5 separate regions of the Homo sapiens genome follow, and all the other regions are linked to region 1. Evidence: fine-mapped expression QTL. A gene starts in region 1. Each other region holds a variant in brackets. All regions are shown on one strand. Distances are between the middles of the regions.

Region 1 (5,103 bases):
TCTAAGATTCATTTGGTGATAACACTTGCTATAACGTACTCTAGCACTCTCCTCTATGCTGTTTTAGAAGTGTCCTAAATGAATGTCTATTTCCCTATGCTATAACCATTTGAAGATGGATATCGTCTGATCTTTGTATTTCCAATGCCACGTATAATACTTGTGTGTCCTTCAAATATTTCGTTTAAAAAAAAAAAAAGAGGCCGGGCCTGGTGGCTCAAGCCTTTAATCCCAGCACTTTGGGAGGCCGAGGTGTGCTGATCACCTGAGGTCAGGAGTTCGAGACCAGCCTGAATAACATGGAGAAACCCCATCTCTACTAAAAATACAAAAAATTAGCCGGACGTGGTGGCACATGCCTGTAATCCCAGCTACTTGGGAGGCTGAGGCAGGAGAATTGCTTGAACCCGGGAGGCGGAGGTTGTGGTGAGCTGAGATGACGCCATTGCACTCCAGCCTGGGCAACAAGAGCAAAACACTGCCTCAAAAAAAAAAAAAAAGAAAGAAAAAGAAAAGAAAAGAAAAAAGAAAAGTCTATGCATTCTTCTGGCACAGGTGGTCTGCATTTTGCAAATAAAAAACAAACACATGGGCCAGGAGCGGTGGTTCATGCCTGTAATCCCAGCACTTAGGGAGGCCCAGGTGGGCGGATCACGAGGTCAAGAGTTCTAGACCAGCCTGGCCAACATGGTGAAACCCCGTCTCTACTAGGAATACAAAAATTAGCTGGGCGTGGTGGCACATGCCTGTAATCCCAGCTACTCAGGAGGCTAAGGCAGGTGAACTGCTTGAACCCCGGGAGGCGGAGGTTGCAGTGAGCTGAGATCGCGCCACTGCACTCCAGCCTGGGCAACAGAGCAAGACTCTGTCTTGGAAAAAAAAAATGGTCTAAAAAACCTTACGATCTGCAAATGTTATGAATTGATCTAGAAAGTAATGTTTCTCTTTAAACTGTATGCTTCCTTGGGACTCATGCTTATTTTTACCTACGAACAACAGATTAATAACATAAGTGAAACAGTTGTGTCAGGGTGGTGCAAATATAATTTTAATATCTCAAAATACATATTTATTCTTTTTACTAACATTTATCCTTAAAATGAAGACCCTTACCCTATCCCTCCATCCTAACCACAATCCTACCTCAAAATGTCCTTCAATTTGTACTGACTTACCACTTCTCAGCACTTCCTAACAAGATCCCTTGCCTTTCATTAGTCACTTGTAATCCATTTCAATCGGAAAGAATCATAAGACAGCTGTTCAAGTGATAACACTCTCAACACCTTTAGTATCCATACCAATCCATTACAATTTCTGTCCACTAAATATAAAGAAAAAAAATACTACACATGGTATCATGGTGAAATTTGGGAACCAGTACAACCATGCAAGCCTACAATTTCACACACTGGGAAAACATTATTTCACACTTTATTACTAATTAAAGTATCTTACACGTCAATTTTTGAAAGATAAAAGGATTTTAAAATACACTAAAAGTTCACGCAAACTTACTTCCACCAAAGTTCAGATCCCTTAATGCATCTCCATCCTTAAAATCCAATCTCTCTGGAAAATCTAATGAAATAGGAACCCTCTACTTTCTAGCCTCTAAATTCATCAAACTCGTCACTCTTGATAATTTCTTTGTTTAAAAGTGCAAGGAAAGCATTCATAGTGGCAGCATCACGAGTTGGCTTACCAGGTTTCCGCCTCCCCCCATCTCCCAAGCACCTCCAATAAGCTACAATTGAAATAACCAAGAACGTGCTTAGGATGTTCGCAAAAACACAACTCTTAAGACTCCAACTCCAGTCTCCGCCTCCCAACGAGATTACTGCATAAGTACCTCCTACAGCAGAAATTCTAGTTCCCTCCTTCGAGGACCAGGAAGAATTCTGGAGCTTTGGGCCCTTCCTTTCTGGCTCTGGTAGGAACACACAACACTAGATTTGTTCCCTACTAAGGCAAGAACCCTGACCACATCTCCCTCTCCAAACAAGATCCAGCCACCCTACTCCTTACCGCTTTCCCAACACCCTCCCCGAACACAAAGCTAGGGAGCAAACCCCTCTCAGGCGCTCAGTCACTACATGGAGCCCGTCCAGTAGCCCTTTCCCACTCAGAGACAGGCCCATCTCCTTTATTCTTTCCCCAAACTCCGAGAGCCACACCCCCTTCTACACTGAAAACTTAGGGACGCGCCACCATCGCCAATACCCCGCCCCCAAACACCTGATAGACCCAGCTCCCCTGCTCTTCCCTCAAACGAGCGCTCCAGGCGCCGGCCTAAGCCAACTCCCCTGGGTCTTTACCGAGTCTCTGGTGGGGGCCGAAGCCCGGGTCATCCGGAGGTCGCGGCGCCAGCACGAAAGGAACCACGCTGGTCAGGAATAGGAGAGACTGCCTCATGTTCCCGGCCCCGCTACCGACTCCACCTCTCTGGGCAGCCTTCGCCTGACGGGGTTTCGGAAAACTGCTCACATCGGGGGAGGACGGGATCCGCCCGGCCTAGCCCCTCAATCCTCTTTTCCCTCCCGCGCCGCCTACTGGGAAGATTCTACCGCCAGGCTCGACGCCCCCAGAAGTGCAGGTGGCGTTACCAAAGGCCGGCTCAGCCAGCTTCCGGCCGCCGCTGTCCCCCGCACCACCCACAGCCGGAAGCCGGCTGCCGCGCGGCATCCCGGGAGGCTCCGCTTGCCCCGCCCCACGCCGGTGCGCCGCGGGCCTCTGGTCCGCTGCCGTGTTCGGCCCCGCCCGTCACGTCTAGCTGGGGCTCGCCCGGCGCCTTCCTGGACGCAGACGTATGAGTCCCAACTCCACCCAGTCCGGCCTGGCCTCTGTCCCCGGGTGACCGCGGAATGGGGGGGCGGGAGCTAGCGAGCAGGCCCTCAAGCGCGTCTGGCCGCCTCCTTTGTCTTGATGCCCACGTCTGGTTAGGACCCCTGCTGTCCATTTTATTAAAGGAGCTGTAGAAAGCGGCCTGGGGCCCAGCGACCTGCCCAGGGCGGACGAGGAGGCGCGACTGGCCCGATGCCGCAGGCTCTCTGCCCAGTGTGCTCAGGTGGGAGGGCGGGGACATGAATCGAGCCACAGAGTGCCCTGGGCACGGACCCCCCGCCCCCCCCGGCCCCGGGCCCCGAGCCCCGAGCCCCGAGCCCGGCCACCGAAGCCCGTGCCACTCGCCAGCTCCTGCGAGACGAGCCTTTCGAGCGCAGCTCAGGCATTTGGTTCAGGGTCCTACTGCCGGAGTCGTCTGAGGCCTCCATCCGTCTGTCGTCACGAAAAAGGTTTTGGGGGGACTAATAAGCACTTCCTGAATGCACATTTGCTCCACGCCCCTGCTGTAGGGAGAGGGTCTGCAGACACTTCAACAAATAGAATCCTAGGACCTTACCTGTGAGTACAAGAGCTGGAATCTTCCCACCAACTTCTTAAAATTCAATCCTATACTTGGTCCATTTAGCTTAGACTGGAAATTTCCCAAGGCAGTTTGTTTTGCAATCTTTTGCATGATTTTAGCTCTGTATAGTTTAGTGAATGTTTATGGTACTGAATAAAACAGTCTAAAAACGTTGGGTACATGTTGCTGTTTTATTTAGTTCAACCAAAGTTTATAAAAGTAGGACATAATACGTTTTCCACTTAAGAGTGAGACAGCCTTTATTATGAAACGGTAAATTGTTAGGAATACTAGTCCTATTCAAGTTTCAAGGCTTATTCCTAATAAAATACTCAAACTGTGGTTAAAATTTATGTTAATGGTGGTTTGCCGCAGTAAAATATCAGCGTCTTTTTCAACAATACATTGTTGGCTAAAATTAACCGGACCTGGTCTGTACATCTGAAGTATAAAATATCTTTATTAAACATACCCATTAGTGGCATACCTAGTCAAAAAGTAAGCAGAATTTCACATGCAAATTGTATACAATCTGTAAAAATTGTATTCCATAAGAATGTGACAGTTGAGTACGGTTTTTGGGGGGCTTTTTTGGTGTACCATAATAATGTCATCTGGTTTCTTTTCTGAACATCCAGTCACCATAATGTCCGGCTTGTAACTTTAGTAGATCGTAGATTGTATTATTTTGGTATCCCCAACAGCTCTTGTACAGTGCCTTGCTCATAGAAGGTACTTAGCTGTTTAGTAAATGCCGTTTAAAAAAAAAATCCCGATCCATTTTCTTTTCTTTTTTTTGGGGGGGGGTGGTGGGGGAAAGAGTTTCGCTCTTATTGCCCAGGCTGGAGTGCAATGGCGTGATCTTGGCCCACTACAACCGACTGAACACCTCCTAGGTTTAAGCGATTCTCCTGTCTCAGCCTCCCAAGTAACTGGGATTACAGGCGCCCGCCACCACGCCCAGCTAATTTTTGTATTTTTAGTAGAGATGGCATTTCACCACGTTGGCCAGGCTGGTCTCAAACTCCTGACCTTAGGTGATCCACCCGCCTCGGCCTCCCAAAGTGCCAGGATTATAAGCGTGAGCCACCGCGCCTGGCCTGAATAACCAGAAGTCCTAGATTTCCAGGGACATTCCAAATTTCAAGTAATCTTTTCAATTCACAAATCAGGACCCAAATTATTCCAATTTGCAGTTCATCTTTCATTTATCAATTGTGCATACTTTTAAGATAAAAGAGCACCACGTGGGGGAGATAAAGAGCCAAAGGAATATGGTAAGAGGGGCACTGGATAGATTAATTAGTTTATCTTTTTTTTTTTTTTTTTTTTTTTTTGAGACGGAGTCTTGCTCTGTTGCCAGGCTGGAGTGCAGTGGCATGATCTTGGCTCACTGCAGCTTCTGCCTCCCAGGTTCAAGGGATTCTCCTGCCTCAGCCTCCCAAGTAGGTGGGACTACAGTTGTGCGCCACCATGCCCAGCTAATTTTTGTATTTTCAGTAGAGACAGGGTTTCACCATGTTGGCCAGACTGGTCTGGATCTCCTGACCTCGTGATCTGCCCGCCTTGGCCTCCAAAGTGCTGGGATTACAGGCATGAGCCACCGCGCCCGGCTCTTTTATCTTTTGAGACGGTCTGGCTCTGCAGCCAAGGATGGAGTACCGTGACACAATCACAGCTCACTGCAGTCTCGACCT
Region 2 (5,103 bases), 250 kb before region 1:
GTCATTGTGTGTTTTCTTAATTGCTGGCTATTAAAGGGACAACTGCCACGATGTAGGTGACCTCAAACTTAGAAAAAAATTGTTTGCCAAATCTACAAGGTACTGTGTGGAATGGCTCTAGTGGGGATGTAGATAGGGGGTGGAAGGGCTGTAGGGGGTGTAGATATGCGGTGGAGGGGCTGTAGGGGGGGTGTAGATACAGGTGGGAGGGCTGTAGGGGGATGTACATAGGTGGGAGGGCTGCAGTTGTGGGGGTGTAGATACAGGGTGGAGAGGCTGTAGTCTTGGGAGTATAGATATTGGTGGAGAGGCTGGAGTAGTGGAGTATAGATATTGGTGGAGGGGTTGTAGTATTGAGGTATAGATATTGGTGGAGGGGGTGTAATAGTGGGGTATAGATATTGGTGGAGGGGCTGGACTAGTGGGGTATAGGTATTGGTGGAGGGGGTTGTAATAGTGGGGTATAGATATTGGTGGAGGGGCTGGAGTAGTGAGGTATAGATATTGGTGGAGGGGCTGGACGAGTGGGGTGTAGATATTGGTGGAGGAGGTTGTAATAGTGGGGTATAGATATTGGTGGACAGGCTGGAGTAGTGGGGTGTAGATGTTAGTGGAGAGGCTGGAGTAGTGAGGTATAGATATTGGCGGAGGGGGTTGTAATAGTGGGGTATAGATATTGGTGGACAAGCTGGAGTAGTGGGGTAAAGATATTGGTGGAGGGGCTAGTGTAGTGAGGTATAGATATTGGTGGAGGGGCCGTAATAGTGGGGTATAGATACTGGTGAGGGGCTGTAATAGTGGGGTACAGATATTGGTGGAGGGGGTTGTAATAGTGGGGTATAGATATTGGTGGAGGGGCTGGAGTAGTGAGGTATAGATATTGGAGGGTCTGGAGTAGTGAGGTATAGATATTGGTTGACAGGCTGCAGTAGTGGGGTATACATATTGGTGGAGGGGCTGTAATAGTGGGGTATAGATGTTGGTGTAGAGGCTGTAGTAGTGGGGTATAGATGTTGGTGGAGGGGCTGTAGTAGTGGGGTATAGATATTGGAGGGGCTGGAGCAGTGAGGTATAGATATTGGTGGAGGGGCTGTAATAGTGGGGTATAGATATTGGTGGAGAGGCTGTAGTAGTGGGGTATAGATATTGGTGTAGAGGCTGTAGTAGTGGGGTATAGATATTGGTGGAGAGGCTGTAGTAGTGGGGTATAGATATTGGTGGAGGGGCTGTAATAGTGGGGTACAGATATTGGTGGAGGGGCTGTAGTAGTGAGGTATAGATATTGGAGGGTCTGGAGTAGTGAGGTATAGATATTGGTGGACAGGCTGGAGTAGTGGGGTATACATATTGGTGGAGGGGCTGTAATAGTGGGGTATAGATATTGGTGGAGAGGCTGTAGTAGTGGGGTATAGATATTGGTGGAGAGGCTGTAGTAGTGGGGTATAGATATTGGTGGAGGGGCTGTAGTAGTGAGGTATAGATATTGGAGGGGCTGGAGTAGTGACGTATAGATATTGGTGGAGGGGCTGTAATAGTGGGGTATAGATATTGGTGTAGAGGCTGTAGTAGTGGGGTATAGATATTGGTTGACAGGCTGGAGTAGTGGGGTATAGATATTGGTGGAGGGGCTGTAATAGTGGGGTACAGATATTGGTGGAGGGGCTGTAGTAGTGGGGTATAGATATTGGTGTAGAGGCTGTAGTAGTGGGGTGGTAGATATGGGATGGAGGGGCTGTGGGAGAGTATCGATATGAGGTAGAGAGGCTGTAGGGGGTGGGGTTATGGGGGTAGGGGCTGTGAGGGGTGTATATATTGGTGGAGGGGCTGGCGTAGTGGGGGTGTAGACATGGGGTGGAGGGGCTCTAGGGGTGTAGAGAGGGAGTGGAAGCGCTGCAGGAGGGTGTATATACCACGTGGAGAGTTGTAGTACTGGGGGTGGAGATATGGCCTGGTGGGGCTGTAGGGGATAGAGATACCGGGTGGGAGGGCTGTAGTAGTGGGGGTTGTGAGTGAAGGAGGTCGGGGAGCCACATCCGCAGCAGGGATGCAGAAGAGCAGCCGTGTCGGCTTGGGTGCCTGCGAGGGGCCTCAGGGACGTTTCCCAGACTTTCTTAAAGGCAGAAGAGCGGCTGCTGCAGGTGGAGGCATAGGGACCACAGGTGTTCACTGTTCTAAGAAGGGTTGATAACGGAAGAGGAAAGCAGGTGGGAAGGGTTCCTAGGGTGAGAGGGGCTTGAGCCTGTTTCTGGGCCCCAGGGAAGGAGCTGGAAGCTCAAGGTTGATGAGAAGGAAAATGGGGGGCTGTGAGCTGTGGAGATCCTGTGCCCCTTTGTCCTCGGGTTGATGAGCCCAGCCAGGAGTCAAGCCTCTGCTCCTGGCTCGCTGAGGGAATTGTCAGCGAATTGATAGAAATTCAGCATGTGCTTGTTTGCATTCCT[CCTT/C]CTTTGGGAACTTTCAGCCGTTTGGTAATCATTGCTTAAAATCTGAAGCCTGGCACCCCATATCAGTGCCCATATACTCCAGGTTCCAGCTTAGAAGGCATGTGGGCAGGGTTTGTACCATTGGTGCCCCAGGGGCCCTGGCCGGACATCCACAGAGCATCACTGGAATCGCCTGGGGCTTCTTAGAATTCCAGCCTCTCGGAGGCCTGCAAAGCCAGAATCTTAGTGTGTAGGAGCCCCAGGCAATAGCAGGCAGTCAAGCTTGAGCAGCACTGCCCTGGAGCAGAGGTCCTCCAAGTGCAGCCCCTGGGCCAGCTGCACCAGCAGCACCGGAATTGTTAGAAATGCGCAGCCCCAGCCTCCACACCTCACCTGCAGGGTTGTGGCTCTCCAGCTGGAGTGCATCAGCATCGCCTGCGTGGCTTGTTAGACCACACCTGTTGGACTTCCCCTAGAGTTTCTGATTCCGCAGGTCTGGGATAGGGCCCAGGGTTTTGCATTTCCTGTTCCTAGTCACGCTGGCCTTGCTGGTCAGGAGCCACACTGAGAACCACTGCCCCAAGGACAGCCTGGGTCCAGTGCTTCCGACTCTCACCCTTGGCGAGATGGAGACTTCAGGTGCCCCAGGTCCTGTGGAGGTCAGAGCTACTTCCTAAACCTGGATTCTTGGAGGTAATACATTTGAAAAAGTACTTTCATTTCTGGTTGATGGCTTCAGCAAATGTTTTACCATCACCCGGTTTTAGAAGTAGTTTTGGGTGCCTGAGTCCTGGGTTCTCCAGTGCTGCCCTCCGGCTCCCAGAACCGGCCTTCAGCTGGTGTCAGTGTGGTTGTTGGTGGCTGACTGACATGTCCAAGCTTATCCTTTATTCTAGTGGAGAAGGGGGCAGAGGGCCCAGTTTTCTCTCCACTTAGAGCCTGAAAGATCAGAGCTGTTGACTGCCAGAGAAGCAGCATTAAGAGCAGAAACCAGGTCAGCGATTTTCCTCCTTGTTCTGGTGTGAAAGTTGCCAATGTGTTTTTGGCAGCTGGCTGGTTTTGATCTTTCAGTTTGTGTTAAACACTTAGGATCAGCATGGGCTCCCCCTTCTCCTTTTTAATTAAACAGCGACTGTGCTGCCAGGGACGGGCTGGGCGCATCTGTTCAGGAGGGCCCTGTGTGAGAGTGCATAGACGGGAGTGTGTGCATACGTGTGCTTGTCTGTGTGCATGCATATGTGTACGTGTGCATGCATGTGTGTATGATAGACCTCAAGGCAATTCTGTGGCCCAGGGGATCTGTTCACTGACACCAAAAACAAAAGTGGCCTAGATGATTGTATTAGTCTGTTCTTGCACTGCTATAAAGACATATCTGAGACTGGGTAACATATATATAACACATATATAACACACACATATATAACATATGTTTAATTGGCTTACGGTTCCACAGGCTGTAGAGGAAGCATGGCAGCATCTGCTCTGCTCGGCTTCTGGGGAGGCCTCAGGAAACTTACAATCATGGCAGAAGGTGAAGGGGGAGCCAGCACTTCGCATGGCCGTGGGCAGGGGCAAGAATGAGGCGGGAGGTGCCACACACTTTTAAACTCACTTGCTACACAGTACCAAGGGGCATGATGCCAAACCAGTCGTGAGAACTTCACCCCCGTGATTGAGTCATCTCCCACCAGGCCCCAGCTCCAACACTGGGGACTGCAATTGGACATGAGGTTTGAGCGGGGACACAGACCCAAACCACATCAGTGATTTTCCTGTTTAGAGTTTCCTTGTATGTACCTGACGGGCTGCTCTGTGTAAAAGGGAACAGGAGGGCTTTTCGATGGAGACAGCATCTAGGATGGCAGCATGTGCCCAGCCTCAGCTTAGCTTAGCCTGGCCTGGCAGGTGTAAACCATCTTGCCCTGTGCCAGCAGGAGTTTCAGTCCAGCCGTCTTTAATAGTGAGCTGAGAGGAAGAGCTCTGGCTTCACTGTTCTAGCCAACTCCGCTGCTAATAGTTGTGTGATTTGGAGGCAACGTGGATGACTCAAGCCTCTGTTGCCATACCTGCAAAATGGGGGTCACGGCACATACTTCTCAGAGTAATTGCAAGGGTTGAATGGGATTAAAGGGCCCTGTGTCATCTGGTGGTTTATTCAGGCCATTTTAGTCAGTACCTTGTGCTTCTCAAAAATACTTTCTGCCTGGATACCCGTTCTTTCAGATAAGCGGCCTTTAGAAAGAACAGAGAGCTGTCCTTTGAACCTGCCAGTCATACTCCTGCCCCAGGACCTTTGTGTTAGAGTCCCGTTGGCCCAGAGCGCACTTCCCCCAGGTCCTCATGTGGCTCTCTGCCCCGCCTCCTTTGCGCTCTGCTCCAAGACCACCTTATAAAAAGGCCTTTCTGACACTATTTGAAAGAGTCTCCATCCCACAAATGATCATGGCATCTTTATTTGTGGTATCCGTAGTATCCCCCAAACTGGAAACAACTCAAATGTCCATCAGCAGGTGTCTGGCTAGACGGCAGTGTAGCCATATGATGGAACAGTGCTGGCCAAGAAAAAGAAGTGAACTACTGGTACACGCAACTACATGAATGAATCGCACAGTCATGCGCAGTCCCAAAATCATGATGCAAGAAGCCAGATGAAAAGGCGTACATGCGGGATGATTCCAGA
Region 3 (5,103 bases), 43 kb before region 1:
CAGGCATGGTGGTGCACACCTGTGGTCCCAGCTACTTGGGAGGCTGAGGTGAGAGTATCACCTGAACCCAGGAGGCTGAGGCTACAGTGATCTATGATCACACCACTGCACTCCAGCCTGGGTGACAGAGTAAGACTTTGTCTCAAAAAAGAGTAATAACCGGACTATGATTCTTCTACCAATTATATGAATTTAACAGAATAAGTAGGATTTTATTTAATACTATCAAACATTATTGTAAGTAGTAACAAATCAATTTAAGAAAATGTAATTTATAAGATATACTGGAACATTCATAACAAAACATCAAACCTTGGCCATTTCAACCACACACAATCTGGTGCTGATAAATGCAATAAGCTAACTGTAGTTAATTGTCCAGCCTCCTCACATGCCCCTCGGCCCAATCACATGTCTGTTAAAACCTAAAGCATCTCAGCAGAAAGGAAAAAAAAAGCAAGGGGTAAAAAAAACAGTACGGATAGGCGCAGTGGCTCACACCTGTAATCCCAGCACTTTGGGAGGCCAAGGTGGGTTGATCGCCTGAGGTCAGGAGTTCGAGACCAGCCTGGCCAACATAGTAAAACCCCATCTCTACTAAAAATACAAAAAATTAGCTGGGTGTGGTGGCGCACGCCTGTAATCCCGGCTACTCGGGAGGCTGAGACAGGAAAATCACTTGAACCCAGGAGGCGGAGGTTGCAGTGAGCTGAGATCATGCCATTGCACTCCAGCCTAGGCAACAAGAGTGAAACTCTATCTTAAAAAAAAAACAAAAACCACAACTGAGGAACAACAAAACAATGTTTTATTTTCTCAATGACTGAATTCATGTCCAATAACAATCTTAATGACCTAGAGGACTTGGTTTATTAGAATCCAGTTGCAGGGCTGTACTTAATCTATCAGATTATCAGATGATTTCTATATGAATAATAAATTTTGCCAATAAAGCTAAAATTTTTTTTCCATATTTATCTGAATAAAATATCAAACTTAAAGGCCAGGCACAGTGGCTCACGCCTGGAATTCCAGCACTTTGGGAGGCCAAGGCAGCTGGATCACTTGAGGTCAGGAGTTCCAGACCAGACTGGCCAACATGGTGAAACCCTGTCTCTACTAAAAATATAAAACCTAGCCAGGCATTGTGGTGGGCGCCTGTAATCGCAGCTATTTGGGAGGCTGAGCCAGAAGAATTGCTTGAACCCAGGAGGCGGAGGTTGCTGTGAGCCGAGATAGGCCACTGAACCCCCAGCCTGGGCAAAAGAGTGAGAGTCTGTCTTAAAATAAATAAATAAAATAAAATAAAATAAATATATATACATATAAACTTAAAATTCCTGAGTTCTTTTTTCCTAAGGGGGGGAAATCACTCCATAGAACCTGAAAAAATAATATTTTGCAAGTCATTTTTCTATACAAGAAGTCTTTCCACATGTTCATATTAAAACCGTAGTGGGAAAAAAAACTTAAATTTTTAGCAAAAGCACTCAAATCCCAAAGGTGTAATGAAGAGAAATATCTCCTAACTGCTTGGGGAAAATTCATTAGTGGATTTGCTAATGACTCTTAAAAAAAAATCTCAAAAATTTCAAATCAAATTTTGTTTTTTTGCTGTGTTTTTTTAAGAGGAAAGTTCTGGAAGACCAAAGAAAATATGTCATGAAATCAAGCCATTAAGAAGTTGTGACTCCAAAAAAGTAAAAGCGTGAGCTACTGTACACACATGTATGTTTCTGTCCATGGCTCCTGGCTTACAACCCTCCGTAGCCCTGGTTACGGTCTTCTGTTATAATGTTGGGGTGCTTTAGGGCTCAGGAGCAATCCTCAGGAAACAGAATCTCTCTCTCTGACCTTCTCCTGTCCTCCTTTTACCTGATCCAAGGCAAGACTCTAATCTGATTGTGGGTCCAGAGATCCTCATTCTCATTCTCATTCTAGAGAGGGTCCTGCCCTTTACTGTGGAGGGAGGAATGCTGCACAGAGAGGTCAAGGAGAATCTGGACAGGCCTTGGTGGGCTTCCCCACTCAGTCGGTTAGTATGAGAACATACCCATTTTGTCCAATCACATTTCTACACAGTTGTCATTCGTGCTTATGTAATGAAGCCTCCATAAAATCTCAAAAAACAGGATTCAGAGAGCTTCCAGAGAGCATTTTGAATACATGGAGGTTGACAGGAAGGTGCAAAACTCATTCGTGTGCCAGGAGGGAGGTACATCCCAACTCCATGGGGACAGAAGCTCCTGTACTCGGGACCCTTCCAGACCTCGCCCTATGTATCCCTTCATTTGGCTATTTCTTTGTATCCTTTCTTTTTTTTTTATTTTTTGAGACAAAGACTCCCTCTGTTGACCAG[T/TA]ACAGTGGCGCAATCTCAGCTCACTGCAATCTCTGCCTCCCAGGTTCAAGCACTTCTCCTGCCTCAGCCTCCCGAGTGGCTGAGATTATAGGCATGCACCACCACACCTGGCTAATTTTTGTATTTTTAGTAGAGACGAGGTTTCACCATGTTGGTCAGGCTGGTCTCAAACTCCTGACCTCAGGTATCTACCCACCTCGGCCTCCCAAAGTGCTGGGATTACAGGCGTGAGCCACCGCACCCAGCTTCTTTGTATCCTTTAAAATATCCTATGTAATAAACCCATAAACTAAGTTAAGCTTTTCCCTGAGTTCTGTGAGCCACTTAAGCAAATTAATCAGACCCAAAGAGGAGAATGTGGAAACCCCAACTTGAAGCCAGTTGGTCAGAAGTTCTGGAGGCTCAGACTTGTAACTGGTGGGGAGGAGGGAACAGTCAGTCTTGTGGGACTGGGCCCTCAAACTGTGAGATCTGATACTATTTCCGGGTGGAGAGTGTTTGAATTGAATTGGAGGACACCTAGCTGATGTCTACTGCTTGATATGTAGGGGGAAATCCCCACACGTTTGGTCTGGTCACACAAGTCTTCTGTGTTGATGATGATGGTTGTGATGTGAGAATAGAGGGAAAACACAGTTTGAGAGATTTTTTCCCCTAAAACAAAGTACCATAAGAAAAAAATAAATTTAGAAATTAAGGCCAAGCACGGTGGCTCACGCCTGTAATCCAGCAGTTTGGGAGGCCGAGGCAGACGGATCACCTGAGAGCCAGCCTGACCAACATGAAGAAACCCCATCTCTACTAAAAATACAAAATTAGCTGGTCGTGATGGCGCATGCCTGTAATCCCAGCTGCTCAGGAGAAAGAGGCAGGAGAATTGCTTGAATCCGGGAGGCGGAGGTTGCAGTGAGCCAAGATCACACCATTGCACTCCAGCCTGGGCAACAAGAGAAAACTCCATCTCAAAAAAAAAAAAAAGAAAAGAAAAAAAGAAATTAAAAGATTCCCAAAAGCTAATTAGTGTCTTTTTCTTTTCTCATACCACTCTACATTATTGTTCAACATTGTCCAACAATGATAGACTGGATTAAGAAAATGTGGCACATATACACCATGGAATACTATGCAGCCATAAAAAAGGATGAGTTCATGTCCTTCGTAGGGACATGGATGAAGCTGGAAACCATCATTCTCAGCAAACTATCGCAAGGACAAAAGCCAAACACCGCATGTTCTCACTCAAAGGTGGGAATTGAACAATGAGAACACTTGGACACAGGAAGGGGAACATCACACACCGGTGCCTGTCGTGGGGTGGGGGGAGGGGGAAGGGGGAAGGGATAGCATTAGGAGATATACCTAATGTAAATGACGAGTTAATGGGTGCAGCACACCAACATGGCACATGTATACATATGTAACAAACCTGCACGTTGTGCACATGTATCCTAGAACTTAAATTTAAAATATAAATATATATATATATATATATATATATATATATATATATATATATATATATAAATAAAAAGAGACAGGGTCTCAGGCCAGGCACGGTGGCTCACGCCTGTAATTCCAACACTTTGGGAGGCCAAGGCGGGCAGATCACAAGGTCAGGAGATTGAGACCATCCTGGCTAACACAGTGAAACCCCGTCTCTACTAAAAATACAAAAAATTAGCCGGGCGTGGTGGTGGGGGTGCCTGTAGTCCCAGCTACTTGGGAGGCTGAGGCAAGAGAATGGCATGAACCCAGGAGACAGAGCTTGCAGTGAGCCAAGATCATGCCATTGCACTCCAGCATGGGAGACACAGCGAGACTCCATCTCAAAAAAGAAAAGGAGGATCTCGCTAAGTTGCTCAGGCTGGAATGTAGCGGGTATTCACAGTTGCATTTATCACACTACAGCCTCTAACTCTTGGCCTCAAGTGATCCTCCCGCGTAGCTGGGACTATAGGCTCCTGCCACCACCTGTTTTTAAATCACCCAAAGTCCACAGTTTATGTTAGGGTCCACTCTTTGTGCTGTATATTCTATGTGTTTCAACAAATGCATAATGTCTTATACTGACTGTTGAAGTATCATACAGAGTAATTACCCTGCTCTCCACCTATTCATCCCTCCCTCCCCCAGCATCTAGCAATCACTGATCATTTTATAGTCTGCATGGTTTTGTCTTTTCTAGAATGTCATATATTTGGAATCATATAGTATGTAGCCTTTCAGACTGGCTTATTTTACTTAGTAGTATGCTTTTAAGGTTCCTCTATGTCTTTTCATGGCTTAATAGCTTTTTATTTTTTTCTCATTTTATGGATGTGCCAGTTTATCCATTTACCAACTAAAGGATATCTTGGTTGCTTCCAAGTTTTATCAATTATGAATTAAGCTGCCATAAACATTCTTATGGCTGGGCGTAGTGGCTCACACCCGTAATCCCAGCACTTTGGGAGGCTGAAGCAGGCGGATCACCTGAGGTCAGGAGTTCGAGACCAGCCTGGACAACATGGTGAAACCCCATCTCTACTAAAAATACAAAAATTAGCTGGGAGTGGCAGCGGGCACCTGTAATCCCAGCTACTCAGGAGACTGAGGCAGAATTGCTTAAACCTGGGAGGCAGAGGTTGCAGTGAGCCGAGATGGCGCCATTGCACTCCAGCCTGGGTGACAAGAGTGAAACTCCGTCTCCAAAAAAAAAAAAAAAAGAAAAAAGAAAAAGAAAAGAAACTGCCAACTGCCTTCCA
Region 4 (5,103 bases), 160 kb before region 1:
TTTCACTGGATCAGAGAAGCGAGCCCTGGATGCTGCCCTGTCTCCTGCTGCAGCAGCCCTGGAGTGGGGAGTCCAGCATCTCTGGGCTTCATTGCTTCCAGAGCATGAGAATTCTAGAGCCGAGGTGCTCGTGACTTCCTTAGAGTAAGTTAAAATTAAAAGCAGCCCAGCCCCAGCTAGAGTCAGTGCCATGTGTGCACATGCCGGCAGCAGAGCCGGGAGCAGTGGGTCTGGGAGGGTCTTCAGAGGTTTCCAAGGCGAACACACCAAAGGCCAGAAGGAACCACTTTCCTGCCTCTCCGTCTGGTGGTCCAGGGGCTGCATTTGTGTGCTAGAGTCAGACTTTTGAGTTTTCCTTTAAATTGGAAAAAGGAAACAATAATGATAAAAAGAAAGATCATAAGCTGGATCCCTTCATGTTTCCCCACGCCAGTTTCCTCTCTGTGTAGCTGAAGGCCTCATTCTTCCTGGCTTTTCCTGGCAGAGGGAAACCCAGCGCCTTATGTGTTACCCATCCTGAGGCCCAGTATGATAAGCCCGACATTTAGAGAGGGCTTAATGCCTATCAAGGGAGGAGAGACGGAGGAAGGAGACTTGGACTCACAGCCTCCCTCCAGGTCTTACCAGCTCTGCCACCCTTGACGAGAGCTCTTCCCCTCCGTGGGCCTCAGCCTCCTTGTCTGTAAAACGTAGACACTAAGAAAGCTCTTCACCCACCCACTCCGGAGACTGAGGAGCCGTTACTAAGTTAGTAGCTCCCATCTCTCCTCAGATCCACCCTGCCCAGCAGCCCGATGAAGTGGGTAGGGCCTCATCCCTTTGGCCACAGGTCAGTCGATGTGCAAAGCAGGCCCTGCTTCCCCGGGCAGAGCTGAGGGCCCCGGCCTCCTGCTGTTGGGTCTTTGAGTGGAGAGCAGGAAACTGCTGGCTTTCCCCCAGGGAGTTCTAGCTGAGAAAATACTCACTCACAGGCTGATAGAAAAATTGTCATCCTAACTTTAGGCTCCCAGCTTCCTTATTAGTTTGGAAAGGACTCCCTGCTTCCTCCCTGTGAATGGTTTTCTGAAAACTGGCAAGGAAATAGCAGCAGGTTTTTCCTTAGGAAATAGCAATAAAAAACTGAAGCCCTTCTCAGAAAAGCCTCCAGTGAGGAGGCCTGAGTGGGAAGCCTGGCGGCTGACCCTCTGCACGTCTCTCCCTGTCCTCCGCAGATCCCCTGACCCCCACGCCGCCCCCACCCGTTGCCAAGACGCCCAGCGTAATGGAAGCCTTGAGCCAGCCGAGCAAGCCTGCCCCGCCTGGGATCTCACAGATCAGGCCCCCACCTCTGCCCCCACAGCCGCCCAGCCGCCTCCCGCAGAAGAAGCCTGCGCCGGGGTAAGCCACCCCCAGCCAGCTCGGCCATCCGTGCTCCTGCCCTCTGACCTCACCTGCCCAGGGCTCTGCAGGAATGTTTGCAATCCCCAGGGCTCCTACTCCAGCGTGGGCGCCACATAACTAATTCATCGGGGCTGAAGGGTCTTAAAAATAACTGGAGGATTTTTAGACTGTAAAAATGTCTTACAAATGTACATTTTAAGTCCACAGAATGAATTCAGACAAAGTGTCCTCAACACACAAGGCTTCTGGGTTCTATTTGCTGCTCACCCCCCAGGTGGTCTCTGTTTCTGTTTTCTATTTTCCCAAGGTTGTTTTGAACACATAGACCCTCTGTGGTGTGAGGCGTGGATTTCCCACAAACAAGGACATTGTCCTACCTCACACAATACCACCTGCAAAATCAGGAAATTAACACGGATGTAGAAACACCACCCAATCCTTAGACCCAGGTCAAGCTTAGCTGTTTGTCCAAATAATGCCCCTTGTTGCAGATGGGTCTAGTTTGTGGCTTTTTTTTTTTTTTTTTTTTTTTGAGACTGAGTCTAGCTCTGTCACCCAGGCTGGAGTGCAGTGGCGTGATCTCGGCTCACTGCAAGCTCTGCCTCCAGGGTTCTTGCCATTCTCCTGCCTGAGCCTCCCGAGTAGCTGGGACTACAGGTGCCTCCCACCACGCCTGGCTAATTTTTTGTATTTCTAGTAGAGACGAGGTTTCGCCGTGTTAGCCAGGATGGTCTCGATCTCCTGACCTCGTGATCCACCTGCCTCGGCCTCCCAAAGTGCTGGGATTACAGGCGTGAGCCACTGCACCAGGCCCCAGTTCGTGGCTCTTAATCTGGATCTTTATGGTGGGAAATGGTTCCTTTTAGTGGAAATGATATTTAGAGGCCAAGTTCTGGGGGCTAGGTGGAGAGTCACTGCTCCCACACAGGCCCTCTGAGCTGTTAGAACTTGGAAATATACGCACATGTACATGGATACATACATACACCACTTATCTCTCTATTCCGTATATTTCTGTATTGAAATCCATGAGTTCACATTGACATCTCTGATTTCAGTTGTTCTAGTAACAAACCACACCAGACTGACAGACATGAGGCACAGCCAGTTTATTCTGCTGACAGATTGTCAGGAATTTGGATGGTACTGTGGGGTCTTCGTCTTTTCTCCACAGTGTCTGGAGCCTTCGCTGAAAGGACTCGAAGCCTGGGGGTGGTTGGACACAGGAGGTGACTCGTTGGCTGGGGGTTACGGTCAGAGTCTCTTCACGCCCCCCGTGGTAGCTGACGCTGCCTGTCAGCCAGAGCCTCAGCTGGGCTGTGACCAGAACACCTACATGTCCCTGGCATGGGCTTCCTCATATCACGGTGGCTGGGTCCACGGACAGGTCCCCAGAGAGAGGCCTGGCCCTGGAAGCTGGCACGGAATGACTTCCGCCATACGTCACTGCTCAGTTACAAGCTCAGACACAGTCGGGGCAGAGAGGACTGTGGAGTGGCACAAGGAAGTCATCAGTTCCACCTCTCAATAAAGAATTTGGGGCCAGGCGCCATGGCTCACGCCTGTAATCCCAGTACTTTGGGAGACCAAGGTGGGCGGATCACCTGAGGTCCAGAGTTTGAGACCAGCCTGGCCAACATGGCAAAACCCCAC[C/T]TCTACTAAAAATACAAAAAAATTAGCTGGGCATGGTGGCATGCACCTGTAATCCCAGCTACTCAGGAGGCTGAGGCAGGAGAATCCCTTGAACCCAGGAGGCGGAGGTTGCAGGGAGCTGAGATCACGTCATTGTACTCCAGCCTGGGCAACAAGAATGAAACTCCATCTCAAAAATAAAAAAATAAAGAATTTGGAGACTAGGCACCATGGCCCACATCTGTAATCCCTGCACTACTGTGTTTTTGTTTTTTTGTTTTGTTTTGTTTTGTTTTTCTTGTGTTTTTTTTCTTTTTTTTTTTTTTTTTTTTTTTTTTTTTTTGAGATGGAGTCTTGCTCTGTCGCCCAGGCTGGAGTGCGGTGGCGCGATCTTGGCTCACTGCAAGTTCCGCTTCCCAGGTTCACACCATTCTCCTGCCTCAGCCTCCCAAGTAGCTGGGACTACAGGTGCCCACCACCACGCCTGGCCAATTTTTTATATTTTTAGTAGAGATGGGGTTTCACCGGGTTAGCCAGGATGGTCTCAATCTCCTGACCTCGTGATCTGCCCTCCTCGGCCTCCCAAAGTGCTGGGATTACAGGCTTGAGCCACTGTGCCCAGCCCATCCCTGAAGTTTTTTAGGAGTAGAGAAATAAAGTTAAACTTTTACTTAGTCCCTCTGTTTTTCAAGATATTCCCAATAGCCGCACCTGGTATCCCCCATCCAGACACCGTCCGTTTTGCCCTCTCCAAGAATAGAAGCTTCCTGTCCTTAGTAGGTTGGGCAGGGCAGCGGCTAAGGCTACTCAGAGCTGGGGCGAGATTCCAGGGGTTCAGGAGCTCCTCAGACAGATTTTTGGCTAATTCTTCTGCATACTACCTTGCCTTTCTCCCCTTCCAGAGGGTCCTGAGCCTTCTGAGGACACTTCAGGACTACAGATAGGAGCATTTCAGGGCCTTCCTCACTGCTGGAGTGGGATTCCATTCCTGAGATCAACTAGGTTGACTGTGATTTATCTTTCACTCTGTTGCCCAGGCTGGAGTACAGTGGTGTGATCACGGTTCACCGCAGCCTCGACCTCCTGGGCCCAGGTGATCCTCCCACCTCAGCCTCCGCATAGCTGGGACCACAGGCACGCACCACCATGCCCGGTTAATTTATTTTTATATTTTGTAGAGGTGGGGGTCTCCTTATGTTGCCCAGGCTGGTCTCGAACTCCTGGGCTCAAGCAGTCCTCCCACCTTGGCCTTTCAGAGTACTGGGATTACAGGCATGAGGCACTGCGCCTCACCTCTTTTAGGTTTAATTTTTAAAAATCCTTTTCCTTGGAAAGAAATGGAAGTAAATGTACTTAAATCTGCCATTTTAACCAGAAGACTCCCAAAACTTTTTAAATGCTACTTTGCAAGATAACTTTCTAAAATATAACATGCAGGGCTGGGCACAGTGGCTCACACCTACAATCCCAGCACTTTGGGAGGCCAAGGTGGGTGGATCACTTGAAGCCAAGAGTTCAAGACCTGCATGGCCAACATGGCAAAACCCTATCTCTACTAAAATTACAAAAATTAGCCGGGCATGATGGCACACACCTGTAATCCCAGCTACTCGGGAGGCAGAGGCAGGAGAATCACTTGAACCCAGGAGGTGGAGGTTGCAGTGAGCCAAGATCACACCACTGCACTCCAGCCTGGGCAACAGAGCCAGACTCCGTCTCAAAAAAATAAAAATAAAATATGCATATCTGTGCCCTCCTAGTCTTAAACAGCTACTGAATTATGCTGTAATAAATGGGCTTTCCAGTGCTAATTATTTCTGCCTCTATACCAAAGTGGCCACAGGCCATGCTTCTCTTGGCTTCTGGGCTCTCTTCTGCCTTCCCTTATGACTCCCTGGGATTTACGCTTTCCATGCTGCTGTTTTTCGAGAGAAACAAATCACGTGTTGAAGTCCTGGCTAAGGAGCCGTCAGCTCCCAGCAGTTATTGGGACTCTGAGAACCGTGGTTGTCAGCTGTGAGGTGCAGGTTCCTTGTTCTCAGAAGCGTTCTAGCTGGCGGGAGCTGGACAGGTTTCCTCTGGAACACAATT
Region 5 (5,103 bases), 69 kb before region 1:
ATCAAAACGAAGGTCTCTTTGTCTAAAGCCGACAAATGATTTTGCTGTGTTGCGGTCCAGCTGTTACATGTAAGAAGCCAGCGGTGTCAGCGCAGCGTTCAGCTTCCATGGCCTGGCATTTCCTACTAGTGCAGCCCTTACCAGCCCCCAGCCCAGCTCCTGCAGCCGGCACTCTCCAAGCAGCCCAGCCCTCCTGGGCCTTTCCTGCCTCTCTGCCTCTGTTCAAGGTGTCCTCTAGAACATCCTCCCTGGCGCCTCAGAAGATTCCGGTTACCACTGAAGGCTCCTTCTTCCCACTGCACCTTGTCCTCTGCTGGGTAGAGCAGCACACCAGTAACCTGCAAGGCTCATCAACATATACCCTAAACCCCGGGGCTGGCCCAAGTGGGGTCAATATTTAATGGCATTTTGAAACTGTCTAGATGAGTGGAGCAGAACTTACACAAGGGCCAGCACTTGGGTTTACCAACTGCCACCTCTATTTCTTCTCTTCAATAGGTTGCAAACTAAATCGCCTGAACTCTGTTGTTGGTGAATATGCCAATGCGTGTTTACAAGTGGCCCAAGACTGTGGGACTGACGTACTTGACCTGTGGACCCTGATGCAGGACAGCCAGGTACGGTGGCTTGCTCGGTCCTCTCGGGGTAAATAGGATCACACAGAAGTAAACCAGGTGTGTGTGCAGCAGCTTTCCCTAGAAAGGCCCTGCTTAGCTAAGACAGTCATCCCTTTAGCCAATGAAAACAAACAGGCTTGGGGGAGGGGAGGAATGGAGGTTCCAGGATGGCTCACAAGCCCAGCAGCTTAATTCAGCCAGGCTCCTTGGCTAGGAGTTAGTGCGCAGTGACATCAATGAGCAACACATGGCTCATATTTATGAACGTCCAGGCCAAGTTCTTCTTTCATACAGAGAATGGCAGAAAGCTAAAACTTGTTAATAGGTAAAACAATGAATTTAAATACAGTATTGGCTAATAAAACTGTTTGAGATATGTAGTTCTAATTAAGTTACTTTGTTTTAAAGCCTGAAAGCACAAATATAAAAGGTAAAAAGCAGGTCCCATGGAATGGTGCACTGACTCAGGAGACAGCTGGTTTCTGACGCAGTCACACATACACTTAGGGAGGACCTGGCAGTCCACTCCTGGGTTATCTGCCCTAGAGAAATGAAAACTATGTTCACACAGAACCTGGGTGTAACTGTTGACAGCAGCATTATTCCTACCTGCTGGAAACACGCCAGTGTCCTTCTGTGATGAATAGGGAAACTGGTGTGTCCGTGGAATGGGATACTACTCGGCAATAAAGAGGAGGAACTGACAAGCGCAGCAACGTGGGTGACTCTCGAGGCGCTTCACTGAGGGAAGGAAGCTGGTCTCTGAAGGCTACTTACTACATGAGTCCATCTGTTTTGGTGTCTCAAAAAGGCAAGACTTGGGCTGGGTGTGGTGGCTCACACCTGTAATCCCATCACTTTGGGAGGCCAAGGCAGGTGGATCACCTGAGTTCAGGAGTTCAAGACCAGCCTGGCCAACATGGCGAAACCCTGTCTCTACTAAAAATACAAAAATTAGCTGGGCATGGTGGAGCGCGCCTGTAATCCCAGCTACCCAGGAGGCTGAGGTGTGAGAATCGCTTGAACCCGGGAGGCAGAGGTCACACCACTGCACTCCGGTCTGGAGGATACAGGGAGACTGTCTCACCCTCCCCAGCCCACCCCCCAAAAAAAGGCAAGACTGCAGTAACAGAACAGGTCCATGGTGGCCAGAGGTTAGGGCAAGGAAAGGTATGGCTAAATTCAGGTTCCACACAGATACTGGTGAAGAGGGGCAGACAGGCACTGGTCTTTTTTAATTTTTCTGTGACCTTGTGCTACTCTTTTGTAAAGAGCTTGTTCAGTAGGGCACATTAAAGGCTACTTCATTGCTATGCTGGGATCCAGAGAGAAAGCTTGGACGGGACTGATGATATTTGAAGTACTCAAGGGA[A/AG]GGAAGGATCCAGTGTGCGGGAAGCTCTTTGGACAAACGGGAAGACTCACAGCCTCACCGGTTTCCTCTATTCCTAGCTGTTAGGTTTAGGCTACTTGGACAAAGCAACATAGAAAACAGCCAAGAAACTAACCCAAGTGCCAACTTTTTCCTCTCCCCTAAATATTAATCCATACCAATCGTTCCAATGACCTACACATTTATTATCCATCTGTAATAGGGAAAATGGTCACCAGTGGGAAAGTCATACTACCACGTGGATGCCGAGTCACCAGTCACCTTTGGAGGCCCTGAGAGCCTAAGCAGATCTGGACCCTAGGCCTCTAGTCTTCCTCTGAAACCCTGGAGTACTGGAACCTTCCAGAATTCCAGATTAGGAGGGGCCTTGGCAGCTTGAGTGCCAAAAGGGTCGACATCTAGAGTTCTGTTGTCTAGGAAAGGAAACTGCAAACTATTGGGCTAGTTTTGCTCACATGTCTTTTTCAATTTAATACAAAACTGAGAGGGTCGTCCTTAGAGATCATCTCATCTCAAACTGCCTAGATGAGAAAACCAAGGCCGAAGAAGAAGTGCTACTATTATATGATAGCATCTAAATTTCTGGTCTATTAAAAGTCACATAAGGCCGGGCGCGGTGGCTCATGCCTATCATCCCAACATTTCGGGAGGCTGAGGCAGGTGGATCACCTGAGGTCAGGAGTTCGAGACCAGCCTGGCCAACATGTTGAAACCCCATCTCTACTTAAAAATACAAAAATTAGCCAGGCGTGGTGGCAGTCACCTGTAATCCCAGCTACTTGGGAGGCTGAGGCAGGAGAATCACCTGAACCCGGGAGGCAGAGGTTGAATTAGGCCGAGACTGTGCCATCGTTCTCTAGCCTGGGCAACAAGAGTGAGACTCTAGCTCAAAAAAAAAAAAAAAAGTCACATAAGCTAGTTGGCCACCCAGATTCTAACAGAGCTCTTGGCTAGTGAGATTCTTCCCCAAGAAAGAAATGGCTGTATGGGTAAAATTCTTATAGTTCAGGGCCTGGTATGGCTGCTCATGCCTGTGATCCCAATACTTTGTGAGGCCAAGGTGGGAGTATTGCTTGAGCCTAGGAGTTCAAAACCAGCCTGGGCAACATAATGAGAGACCCATCTCTACAAAAAGCACAAAAATTAGCCAGGTAGCCAGGTATGGTGGCACGTGCCTGTAGTCCCAGCTGCTCAGGGGGCTGAGGTTAGAAAGATCGCTTGAGCCCAGGAGGTTGAGGCTGCAGTGAGCCATGATCATGTCACTGCACTCCAGCCTGGGCAGCAAAGCAAGACCCTGTCTCCAAAAATATGTGTATCTTTTTAAATATGTACTCTTGAGTTCAGGGCAATGGGAGGGAGACTGGACTCCTGTGTCCCAGCAATTACTGTTCTAGGTTAGATGGTAGAAGTTCTTTCTGCCTAAAAACCTGCCTAGAGTCAAAAACAATATTGACTCATGGGGCCCCTGAACACTCCTAATACCAAATTTTTCATTTTTGCTGATTACGTTAATAGGCCATATTTACCTGTTAAGGTTCTTTCAAATAACCTGAGAATCATGTCATATGATTCAGAAGACCTGGAATGAGGTCCCAGCTCACTTAATGGTGAGTGACTTTCATGAAACTCAATTCTATAATATGGAGACAGCACTATAGCACTAGTCAGGGTTCTCTGTGTGTTCAAACACCTACGTAAATAGCACATCAGTGCTACTGTAGTCCAAGACACCTCTGGTCAGATGCCTACAATGAAAGGGGCTGGTGATATTTCTGTCGCAGGGCCACAAATGAGAGAATGGTACACACTGGCATTTAGAAAAGTTATACCCTCCCTCCCCGGCCTTTTTGTGTGTGTGTGTGTGTGTGTGTGTGTGTGTGTGTGTGTGTGTGTGCGCGCGCGCGCGCGCGCTGTGGGGGGAGACAGTCTATCACCCAGGCTGGAACTCAGTGGTGCAATGATACCTCACTGTAGCCTCCAACTCCTGGGCTTAAGTGATCCTCCCATCTTCGCCTCCCAAGTAGGTGGGAATACAGGTGTTTGCCACCACACCCAGCTAATTTTTGTATTTTTAAAATTTTTTGTAGAGACAGGGTCTCAAACTCCTGTCTTCCAGTAATCCTCGGCCCCAAAGTGTTGGAATGACAGGGGTGAGCTACCACACGTGGCCAGTTACCCACCTTTAACCGATTTCTCTCCCTTCTAGGACTTCTCATCTTATTTATCAGATGGACTACATTTGTCTCCAAAGGGGAATGAATTTTTGTTCTCGCATCTCTGGCCTTTGATAGAGAAAAAGGTCTCTTCTCTACCTTTGCTGCTTCCTTACTGGCGGGATGTAGCAGAAGCAAAACCTGAATTAAGTCTGCTGGGAGATGGAGACCATTAGCCAATCACAGGAGACCCAAATCTGCTTGTTATCTACAGAACTCAAAGTTGTCAATACGTAGAGGTACGCTTTTTTCCTCAGGCTTAAACCTTTGCCACTGATATTAATAATAAAAGTATTAGATGATTTTTCAGGGAAGTTTTATACTTAGGTCCATTGTGTTTCGACAGTATTTATTAATGCAGATATCAGTGCTACAGCTATAAAATATACCCTGAGCAGCTTGTTAATTCTATAAATGACAAAGACTATGTTTTTAAAAAGTCACAATTTTATAAAAATGGTTTTTCTTACATTCTTTTGAGAACTGTTTCACTCATACATACACCCACACACCCCACTCAACCTTGTATCAAATTCCAAAAGTGTAACTAAAGTATAAGAATATCATGACTAGTTAAAAGATAGCAAATACCATAAGGTACAAGTTCAAGTATTAGTATAACAAGTATCTGAGTAACAAATGTCCTTGGAAATGGGGGGTAGGAGGAGATATGATTAGTCACAGGTTTGGTTAACTGCCCTCAAAATTTACAAGTTAAAATGTTTTGGCTGGTGAGCACATTTCAGTTCTTAGGGGAAAAAAAGCTTTTAATGGCAATTTATAGAAATCAGAATCCAGGCTAATGATTTTTATCCTTCACACAGTAAATGCAGCCCATCCAGAATCCTGGAGCAATAAAGTAAGAAGTAATTCAAATATCTGC

Direction of the effects. Positions count from the first base shown, and alleles are read on the strand shown. Sizes are in standard deviations (SD) of each study's normalised expression. Not every link is listed here.
For the expression in spinal cord of the gene that starts at base 2,640 in region 1, allele AG in region 5 goes with a higher level than allele A (moderate effect, 0.63 SD a copy in GTEx).

What was found. PIP is the estimated chance that this variant, and not a neighbour inherited with it, causes the effect.
Region 2: its variant is fine-mapped to the expression of ADAM17 in whole blood (INTERVAL, PIP above 0.99).
Region 3: its variant is fine-mapped to the expression of ADAM17 in whole blood (INTERVAL, PIP above 0.99).
Region 4: its variant is fine-mapped to the expression of ADAM17 in whole blood (TOPMed, PIP 0.98).
Region 5: its variant is fine-mapped to the expression of ADAM17 in spinal cord (GTEx, PIP above 0.99).

The regions. Positions count from the first base shown.
Region 1 is chr2:9,553,191-9,558,293 of GRCh38, forward strand. It overlaps ADAM17 (ADAM metallopeptidase domain 17), which reads right to left and starts at 2,640. Exons shown (of 19, transcript NM_003183.6): 1 at 2,319-2,640. The coding sequence starts at 2,415. RefSeq lists silencers at 1,650-1,944, 2,559-2,848, 3,079-3,298, 3,270-3,564.
Region 2 is chr2:9,304,306-9,309,408 of GRCh38, forward strand. All of the region lies in intron 3 of ASAP2 (ArfGAP with SH3 domain, ankyrin repeat and PH domain 2), which reads left to right. Among named protein-coding and RNA genes, the nearest start is that of ASAP2, 100 kb to the left of the region's middle. The variant CCTT/C (reference allele first, on the strand shown) is at 2,439.
Region 3 is chr2:9,510,688-9,515,790 of GRCh38, forward strand. The region is part of intron 10 of ADAM17 (ADAM metallopeptidase domain 17); the gene reads right to left. It also overlaps a transcript of IAH1 not described here. Among named protein-coding and RNA genes, the nearest start is that of IAH1, 39 kb to the left of the region's middle. The variant T/TA (reference allele first, on the strand shown) is at 2,360.
Region 4 is chr2:9,392,271-9,397,373 of GRCh38, forward strand. ASAP2 (ArfGAP with SH3 domain, ankyrin repeat and PH domain 2) reads left to right here. Exons shown (of 28, transcript NM_003887.3): 24 at 1,212-1,377. Among named protein-coding and RNA genes, the nearest start is that of ITGB1BP1, 29 kb to the right of the region's middle. RefSeq lists enhancers at 580-1,217, 1,218-1,855. The variant C/T (reference allele first, on the strand shown) is at 3,034.
Region 5 is chr2:9,483,934-9,489,036 of GRCh38, forward strand. It overlaps IAH1 (isoamyl acetate hydrolyzing esterase 1 (putative)), which reads left to right. Exons shown (of 6, transcript NM_001039613.3): 5 at 499-617; 6 at 4,214-5,103. The coding sequence ends at 4,396. ADAM17 (ADAM metallopeptidase domain 17) reads right to left here. Exons shown (of 19, transcript NM_003183.6): 19 at 4,553-5,103. Among named protein-coding and RNA genes, the nearest start is that of IAH1, 12 kb to the left of the region's middle. The variant A/AG (reference allele first, on the strand shown) is at 1,990.